Linked DNA regions of Homo sapiens: region 2 is linked to region 1. A link means that fine-mapping ties the variant in region 1 to the expression of a gene that starts in the linked region. Tissue or cell type: adrenal gland. Region 1 holds a variant in brackets; the other region holds the start of a gene. All regions are shown on one strand. Distances are between the middles of the regions.

Region 1 (5,155 bases):
TTGAATCTGTTTCTATAGAATAGTAATTTTTTTTCTTCCTTTCTTTATCCTCTACAAATAGGAAGGTAGTATTTGAAGGGGAATTTTTTTAAATTGAAATTTTAATTTTTGTGGGCACATAGTAGGTGAATATTTATTTCATGTATGAGATACATGAAATGTTTGGATATGGACATGCAATGCATAATAATCACATCATATAATGTGGGGTATCCATCCTCTCAAGCATTTATCCTTTGTGTTACAAACAATCCAGTTACACTATTTTAGTTATTTTTAAAATGTACATTTAAATTATTATTGACTTGCATTAGTCCATCCTCATGCTGCTAATGAGGACATACCAGAGACTGGGTAATTTATAAAGAAAAAGAGGTTTAATGGACTCAGAGTTCCACATGGCTGGGAAGGCCTCACAATCATGGCAGAAGGTGAAGGAGGAGCAAAGGCACGTCTTACATGGTGTCAGGCAAGAGGGTGTGTGCAGGGGAACCGCTCTTTATAAAACCATCAGATCTCCCAAGACTTATTCACTATCATGAGAACAGCACGGGAAAAACCCAGCCCCCATGTTTCAATTACCTCTCACTGGGTCCCTCCACAACACATGGGGATTATGGGAACTACAATTCAAGATGAAATTTGGGTGGGGACACAACAAAACCATATTATTTTGCCCCAGTCTCCTCCCAAATCTCATGTCTTCACATTTCAAAACACAATCATGCCTTTCCAGCAGTCTCCCAAAGTCTTAACTCATTCCAGTATTAGCCCAAAAGTCCAAGTCTAAAGTCTCACCTGAAACAAGGCAAGTTTCTTCTTCCTATGAGCCTGTAAAATCAGAAGCAAGTTAGTTAATTCCTAGATACAATGGGAGTAACAGGCATTGGGTAACTTCACCCATTCCAAATGGGAGAAATTGGCCAAAACAAAGGGGCTACAGGCCCTATGCAAGTCTGAAATCCAGCAGGGCAGTCAAATCTTAAAGCTTCAAAATGATCTTCTTTGACTCCATGTCCCACATCTAGGTCAAACTGATGCAAAAGGTGGGCTCCTATGGCCTTGGGCATGACTATAGTCACCCTGTTGAGATATCAACTTAGGTCTTATCCATTCTTTCTATTTATCTGTACCTATGAACCATCCTTACCTGCCCCAAACCCTCCCATTATCCTTCCTAGCCTCTGATAACCATCTTTCTACTCTCTATCTCCATGAGCTCAATTGTTTTGATTTTTAGATCCATAAATAAGTGAGAACACATGATGTTTGTCTTTCTGTGCCTGGCTTACTTCCCTTGGCATAATGACCTCCAGTTCCATCATGTTGTTGCAAATGACAATCTCATTTTTATATGACTGAATAGTACTCCACTGTGTATAAGTACCACATTTTCTTTACTCATTCATCTGTTGATGGACACTTAGATTGCTTGCAAACTTTGGTATTGCAAACAGTGCTGCAATAAACATGGGGATGCGGATATCTCTTTGATATACTGATTTCCTTTCTTTTAGGCATATACCAGCTGTGGGACTGCTAGATCATATGGTAACTCTATTATTAGCTTTTTGAGGAACCTCCAAATTGTGCTCCATAGTGGTTGTACTAATTTACATTCTCACCAACAGTGTACAGGGATTCCCATGTTTTTGCCAGCGTTTGTTATTGACCGTCTTTTGGATATAAGTCATTTAACTGGGGTGAGATGATAATGTCATTGTAGTTTTGATTTACATTTCTCTGACTAGTGATGTTGAGCAACTTTTCATATGCCTGTTTGCCATTTGTATGTCTTCTTTTGAGAAACACCTATTCAAATATTTTACCCATGTTTTAATTGGATTAATATATTTTTTCCAAAGAGTTGTTTGAGCTCCTTATATATTCTAGTTATAAATCCCCTGTCAGATGAGTAGTTTGCAAATATTTTCTCCCATTATTGGGATTGTCTCTTCACTTTGTTGATTGTTTCCTTTGCTGTGCAGAAGATTTTTAACTTGGTTTGATTCTATTTGTCCATTTTTGCTTTGGTTGCCTGTTCTTGTGGGATATTACTCAAGAAATCTTTGCCCAGACCCATATCCTGGAGAGTTTCCTCAATGTTTGCTTGCAGTAGTTTCATACATTGAGGTCTTGTCTAAGAATTAAGTTTTTAATTCATTTGGATTTGATTTTTGTATAAGGCTAGTGATGGGGTCTAGTTTCATTCTTCTGCATATGAATATCCTGTCTTTCTAGCCCCATTTATTGAAGAGATTGTCTTTTCCCCAGCATGTATTCTTGGCAGCTTTGTTAAAAATGAGTTCACTGTAGGTGTGTGGATTTGTTTCTGGGTTCTCTATTCTGTTCCATTGGCCTATGTGCCTGTTTTTATGCCAGTACTATGCTGTTTTGGTTACTATAAGTTTTAGGATTTTTTTTCTATTTCTGTGAAGAATGTCATTGGTATTTTGATGTGGATTGCATGGAATTTCTAGATTGTTTTGGGTAGCATGGACATTTTAACAATATTGATTCTTCCAATTCATGAACACAAAATATCTTTCCATTTTTTGATTTCCTCTTCACTTTCTTTCATCAGTATTTTATAGTTTTCCTAAGAGAGATCTTTTACTTTTTTAGTTAATTTTTAGGCATTTAATTTTATTTGTGACTATTGTAAGTGGCATTACTTTTTAATTTCTTTTTCAGATTGTTCACTGTTAGAATATAGAAATGCTA[T/C]TGATTTTTACATGTTGATTTTATATCCTGCAACTTTGCTGAACGTATTTATCAGTTCTAATAGGGTTTTTGTGGAGTCTTCAGGTTTTTCCAAATATAAGATCATATCATCTGTAAACAAGGATAATTTGACTTCATCCTTTTCAATTTGGATACCCTTTGTTTTTTTCTCTTGTCTGATTGCTCTAGCTAGGACTTCCAGTAATATGTTGAATAACAGTGTTGAAAGTGGACATCTTTGTCATGTTCCAGATCTTAGAGGAAAGGCTTTCTGTTTTTCTCCATTGAGTATGGTATTTGCTGTGTGTCTGTCATATACGGCTTTTATTATATTGAGGCATATTCCTTCTATCCCCAGTTTTTTTAGGGTTTTTAAATCAGGAAGGGATGTTGAATTTTATCAATGCTTTTTCAGCATCAGTTGAAATGATCATATGATTTTTGTTCTTCATTCTGTTGATATGATGTATCACATTGATTGATTTGTATATGTTGCGCCATCCTTGCATCCCAGGGATAAATCCCACTTGGTCATGATGAATGATATTTTTTAATGTATTGTCAGACTTGGTTTACTAGTATTTTGTTGAGGATTTTTGCATCAATATTCATCAGAGGTAATATGGCTTCATATATATATATGGCTTCATATATATATATGGCTTCATATATATATATATATGTATGGCTTTGTCTGGTTTTGGTATCAAAGTAGTACTGGCCTTGTAGAATGAGTATGGAAGTATTCTGAGAGATGATTTTTATTTCTTTCTTTCCGGGGTGGATTCTGGTAGGCTACTTAATAAATTAATAAATTGAAATGACAGAGCACAGAAGAATCTATTCCTAAAAGAATTTGGTGTGTAAGGTTGTGCCTTCTTTTTTACTGTTAGTTTTTGTATACTGGAGCATACTGGTCCCAATTTAAAGCCCCCCTCAATTCCCATTTTATCAAGCTCTGTCTACTTATACTTTGCATAGTTCTTCTTTTTATCTTATCAGTCTATTAATGTGGGGTTAATTTTTTAGGGGTTTTCTACCATGGCTTGAAGATTTGGAGAAGGACATTTTCTAGATCTGATTGTGACACTTATTCCTTCAAGGTGACTGGTGGTGCTGTTACCTCTTTCTTGTCCATTTGAAGATTGTGAAATGCCATTTTAGAGAGTAACTGTAAGACATTTGAAAATACAATTTTCTGTTTGAGAGCTCAGAATAGCAGTCACATCATAATCTTTCTTCTCCTTGGACAGTGATCCTTTTCTGATGACTAGGAACAAGAAATTGGTTTCATTGTGGTTCACTGTGTAGCTTATTTAAAATAATTTAATTTTAAAAGCAGAAAGAATACAGGCTTAAAAGTAAGATTGACTAAAATGGATAATAATTTCTATCTTATATAATAATTGTGAAGATTAAATGAAATAATAAATGTAAAATATCCAGCCCAGTGCCTCACTGAGTTTAGTTCTCAATGTATATTTGTTGAATTAATGCATTAATGAATTGGGGTGATTATTGGAAAACTAGATGACTGGTTATGTTGCTACATGAAAATCATATGTTTATAATGAGAAAAGGCCTTGTACTTTTTCTGTTTGGCACACTCCATTAGAGATCCTAAATGATTGTATCATAGAAAGCAGGTATATATATATATATATATATATATATATATATATATATATATATATATATATATATAAAATTATGGTAAATATAGTTACATCGTGACACCACCCATTATAATTTGACATCAGTTTGGCTATATTTGGACAAAGCATGCTTCTCTTTTCAAATACAGTCATGGTATAACATCAATTACTGACACAATACATTTCTTAGGTCCTGCTATAGACCATTATGTGTACTGGAAGGCACTGAAGGGTTTCACCATGAGGCTGAGTCTGATTGGTAGGACCTACTGCTTTGGGTTAAATCTAAACAGGCTTGGTTATTAAAGTGTCACTAACATCCAAATGGAAGACAGATTTATCTTTAAAGCTAGCCACAGCACACAAAGCAGTGCAAATACTGTTAGAAGTATTTATTTGTGGATTGGTGAGATCTTCACAGGACTTTCTTAATTCAATTTATTTAAGAGATTGGTCAAATTTATCGATGCTGGATATGTGCTTGAAAGGTGCAAAACTTGTCTAATTTTATATCCATTTCTACTTTTAAGTGATAGATATTCTGGTAATGTTGAAGTGATAGCTAGAGAGTTCTTCTTCTAACTTCAATACTAATTATATGATCTTGGGCAAGCTACTTGCTAGATCTTAGCTCGTTGGCAGAATAAGGAAGTCAGACTAACCTAAATGATTTGATAATGTCCTTTCAGTTCTATGTGTCAAATATCTCATTGTTGAGCTTACCAAGATTTTAATGCTAGCTACTTTATTAAAGCTGCCAGTATTAAAGGTGGAAC
Region 2 (5,155 bases), 290 kb before region 1:
TAAGTTGATGCTCTGCCACATGAATCGATGTGCATATATGTATATTTTAGTCATGTTGTGTTCTGTTCAGCTGCTAGATGTTCAAACCAACTGGGTTTCCCCTTAGTTACCCTGTTTGTTTGCTGTAACACTTTCCTGTTGGTAGAACTATTTGTTCTTTCATAATAAAATTGAGAATTTTCTTGTAAAATATATTTTTAAGGTAAAACAATGTAATGATTTGTCCTGGCATTCTATAATTTTGAAAGTCGTTGATGGCAGGAGAATGGCAGAGTGGAAGGATGTCTCCTAGTTATAGTTTTATTAGTAATGTGCTGATGTTTAATGGTTTATCAGGACTGAATTTATTTGAAAAGAAAACCATCTAATGTGGTCAGAGTCATCTTTTGTTCACTATGGCTCTGGCCCTTTTTGGGGAGTAAATCAGCTTTTTATGTATACATTCTGCATGGGAGCTGTAATAAGTGAGCACATGTTGCAAATGCTGTGACCTTCAGTCAACTAGAGAAAGATACCTCTTCTAATCAAAGGCAAAAGCCACGATCTTTCTTGTTGTAACTTACTGTTGACACAAGAAAGGCCAGAGAGATTGACATCAATCTCTATAGAAACCATTAACCAATGCTGAATAAATCTGCAGCATTGAATCCATATGCATGCTTGCTTTTATTATTCTTGACCTATGGGCACACTTCAGCATTTTGTGGGCTTTGTTTTAAAAGGAATGTTTAAAATGTAGCTAGTTATTATGGGATTTCGTTGGTGAAATAAATTGTTTGGGTAGTCTAAATAAAAGAATCCGTATTATTTTGCATCTACTAAGCATTATTTGTTTAGGTGTGGCTTGGTTTGATTCCAGATTAACACACAGCGAAGGCTGTCACTTTAGCTGGGTGTAGCAAAAACCAAGTAGTTTTATACATGTTTTCCAAATGATGTGCAAGCAATGTGTCATTTGATTCTAATTGTGACTTTATTGGCTTGTGGTCCCTCTTTTTTATTCTTTAAAGCATTAACAATGACTGTGTTGGCTGAAAAGACATACGTCTTTAAGAATTCCATGGATGCCCAAAACTCAGTTGGTTATAAGTACTAACAATTGCCGACCGTACGCATAGCAGAAATAGGCTCTGTAAATCAGAGCTTCAGTGCTCTGGGCCCCTCTTCCTTAATTCTCCCGCACAGAAATCGTATTTCTAGTTGAGGAGGGTGAGAAAACAAAAATGCTTTTCATTTCATTCTGTGCTGTACATTTTCCAGTCTGGGTGACTAAAGCTGGCCAGGGTGCCTATTTTTGGAAAGAGGAATTAAGATACTTTGGAGAAAGTAGTGCACTGTGTGCTGACATTCCAGATGGCCAAACTATAGTAGTACCAAGCCCAAGTTTTTGAGCCTTTCGTGCCAATGATGACCTCATGAGGTCCAGCCTGGAGAAATAGAGACATAGTTCTCCAACAATGATGAAGAATGGCTTCTTCCTTTCATATTTCTATTGAGTGATCTCCAGTGTCCTCCTCTTTTCCTGTCTCTGACAAAATTAGCCTTTTATAATTAACAATTGTTAGTTTTTTGGCTTGTCTTTCAGACTTCTCTTAGAGTCCCTTTCACCCCATCTACTTATTGTATCCTCTCTACCAAACAGAAAAACTTGTGATATTTTTCTCTTTGGCATTCCTGTCTTTTCCTAGCAGGCTTTTTTAATGGGGACTGTGGGAGATTTTACACTTGATTTGTTGAATCTGAACTCTTTGCTGTAAACTCTCACCACACAGAAGAAACTATCTTTATAAATGACAGAATGGACCTGGCCTGAATGGCGCTTTGTTTACTGTTTTCCTAAAAGGGGCCCCTCTATATTTCATCTGTCAAAGTTGCTTTTCTTTCTTTCAACAATGCTTGATTGTTTTCACAAAAATTCAGGTTCCATAGACAGGAGAATTCTGTATTATATTTTCCTGCCAAATTCCGATCTCTGTTTTCCTTCCCCTGTGCTCACAAAGGGCTCATAACTTACTGTCAACTGTGAGGCAAACCACAAAGCTCCACTGTTGCTCAGCAAATAGGCTCTATTGGATGATGGCTTGACTAGCTTGTAAAGTTTGCTTAACTGTAGCAGCAGTGGCAGAAGGTATGTGGGGTACTGTATCTCCCAACAGGCCAAGAGATTTCACTTCTTTCATTTACTTTTATGTTTTTAACTCCTTTAATTGTTGAACAAAGTTAACAGTGTTTTGTTTAGCAAATTAGATGTTGCTTAAAGTTATGGCTACAATTGGTAGCCTGAGACTTGGCAGAGATTAATTAGCTGTGGGGTTGGGTTTTTTTTTTTTTTGGTTGGCAGTCAGAGGTTTCTTGTGATTTGGGAAGGTGTCAAAGGTGTTATGCCCTCAAGTTCTGAAGTTCTGGCTGATGTGGTAAGAGAAAGCCGGATTGAAGAGTGGAAGAGCAGCCACTTCATGTGAGTGATTTGTGCTTCCTTTAGCTGTCACAGGTCTTGGCTGTATTACTTTACCTTTTAATTTTTCTAACTTCAAAGCCTACCTGATTGGGTGGGATGATGGCTTGTTAAGAAAAGCTTATGTTATGGTAATAAGGTAATAACTTGAAAAGCATTTTTGCATGACATTTGTAATCTTGCTAGGGAATTGCAACAGACTATTTAAAAACAGATTTGGTTTTCCTGAGGGTTGAATATGCATACCTTTATTTGTAGCATCTCGTAGATTTTTAACATGTGATTATTTTTTCTGTATAATCTAAGGTCCTGAGTACTATTATCTATGAGGAATCATAGATTCCCTACATGAATCTTTTCAATAAAATCAATCTTTCCAATATACACGGCTAGTTTCTAATATATGCTGCATCTGATAAGGTATTTTATGCACTATGGTAAAAGATGTTTTTACTAATGAAAATATTTAATCATAATAAACATTTCAAAGAAACACAACTGACAAGCAGACCACTGGGTAATTGCTGATGTGTTTTTAGTAAAAACTTAAAATTATTAATGTTCATAAGCTGCTATAACTAAGCAAGACTGGTATTACATTGAGATTTATAGTATTTAATGCTATAACTATGTATTGAAAGTATTATTTATATAAAACTATAGTAAATTAAATTGATGATTGGCAAGTGCATTAAAAATAGTGCTTTATCAATGCTTTTCAATTTACTCCTTTTTATTCTGCGATACATTTCTTTTGAATTTTTCTGAGTAACACACACCTTGAATTTGTTTTCCATCATGCCTGTCAAAGTTCAAAATATTAATTTGTTTCTTTCCTTATCCAGCTTTCCTAGATACCTTATTGTTTGTGAGTTTGGTCTTTAGGCAAGTTTATCTTGATGATGGAACTTTCAGCTTCAAATTGTGGAAATAGTGATCTCAAACTACACATGGAATAGTGTGTCATTGTTCTAAGCTGTGGTACAGTTAATAATACCTATTTTGTGATAATGAATTGACCAGAATACCAAACAGTTAGTCTAGCAAATCTATGACTCCTCAAGTTGATTTTCTAAAGTGAATTGTGAGAGGAGAATTTTAAGGTAAGCTGCTTTCAATCAGCTCATGAGAATGTGCTGGGGTTCTTTAGCACACTAGTAGCAACTTGATTTTAGACCTGATTTAGAAATAAAAAAAAATTGTGTGAAACAAGTAACATTTTGGAACATTTAGTGTTGGGCCAGGGGACAAGAAAATAATCAGGCTTTGAAAGGTATTCATGTATTTCATAGGATAGGGTAGCTCAGACTTTTTATTTATTGTCAAGTTAATTTAAGCTCTGGTAGCAATTTTAGTATACTGCAAGGCTGCTTCTGTTTAAAAATTAATTCTGAGCAAATGGGTTACAGTCTCCAAATACTTGGACCGTTTTAGTTGAAAATCAAGGAAAGAGGTTAATAATAGGTGGTTTGAATAGGCACCTACAGCTCAGGACTCTATTGTCCTTAGGAATACAGTTATCAGCAGCAGATGCTGTAGGCTTTGGTCTTCCCTGTGTAAAAAGTGATTCCCTCCTGTCCATACCCCTTTTGAGAAACAGTAACAATATATTTTTACCCTGTGCTTTTTATTTTCTTGGCATGGTTCTTGTCATTAGTTCACTCAGCACTGGGTCACGAGTATATTGGGACTGGAAAACTTATATTCCGTGGAATTTTTATTTATTGTGATGTGTAAAAATTCAGAATCTTTTTCTTTAAGGATTTTTATTTGTTTTTGTTTGAGTCAAACCATTTTTCTGTCAAGTTTTCTTTAAAGAAAGTTAGCATTTGTTTCATAACTACCAAATACCAGGTATTTGCACATATATCAAATTAATCTCTTCACAACAACTTTTCAAGGAAGATGTGTTGTCCCTAATTTTATAGATGGGTACATAGAGACTCAGAGAGTTAAGTAACTTCTGAAGTTCACAGACATAGTAAATGAGATTTAAGTCTTTCCTCTAAACCTTTCCATTATACTGTACTTTTCCTTCTGGCAATAGATCCTGGTAAGACTGGTAGCAAGCAGTTTTCCAGTTCTAGGCACCATGGATGCAAATAAAGTATTACTTTTGAAGAAATCTAAAAAGCTGGTAGATTAGGCATGATAAATGTAAAAGTTTTTCAGGGGACTACTCAATTTTGGGAAATCGTGAGGTGGAGGTGGTGGTTATATGAGAAGAAAGAACAGGACCAGATAAATAATGCAGGATTCTTTCCTATAACTAACACCACAGCTTGGGAAAACCAGAAATTCTGTACCTTGGTAGGTGTGCAAATATGTACTTGGTAAAGAATCCCTTAAGTATGCAAGACAGCAGGTAGTCATACTTGTCTTTTATAATGATAACTCAAACAATTCTGTGCAATGATTCATGGAAACAATTGGATTCTCATGTTCTCCTGGAGCTGTTTATGATAATTCCAGCAAATGCAAGTGAGAAATTTAAAGCAAATAGCTATAAGAAAGGGAGGAGGTGGTGGAAGTACAGAGGGAGAAATACAAGATAGCAGCACTTTAGTTATTTGTGAAACCAGACTGTTTGGTGTGTATAAAAAAATGTGGAAATTTGGGTTGGTGGTAAAAACCTTTCTTCAGCTTTCACAGACAATTATAATTTATAAGAATTCATGTCCTCATATGAGAGGCTTTTCT

Direction of the effects. Positions count from the first base shown, and alleles are read on the strand shown. Sizes are in standard deviations (SD) of each study's normalised expression.
In carriers of allele C in region 1, the expression in adrenal gland of the gene that starts at base 2,006 in region 2 tends to be lower than with T alone (moderate effect, 0.59 SD a copy in GTEx).

The links. PIP is the estimated chance that this variant, and not a neighbour inherited with it, causes the effect.
Region 2: it holds the start of SOX6, and the variant in region 1 is fine-mapped to the expression of SOX6 in adrenal gland (GTEx, PIP 0.91).

What each region holds. Positions count from the first base shown.
Region 1 is chr11:16,062,771-16,067,925 of GRCh38, reverse strand. All of the region lies in intron 9 of SOX6 (SRY-box transcription factor 6), which reads left to right. Among named protein-coding and RNA genes, the nearest start is that of MIR6073, 96 kb to the right of the region's middle. RefSeq lists a cis regulatory region at 2,725 and an enhancer at 2,653-2,797. The variant T/C (reference allele first, on the strand shown) is at 2,725.
Region 2 is chr11:16,353,397-16,358,551 of GRCh38, reverse strand. It overlaps SOX6 (SRY-box transcription factor 6), which reads left to right and starts at 2,006. Exons shown (of 16, transcript NM_001367873.1): 1 at 2,006-2,458. RefSeq lists an enhancer at 1,008-2,321.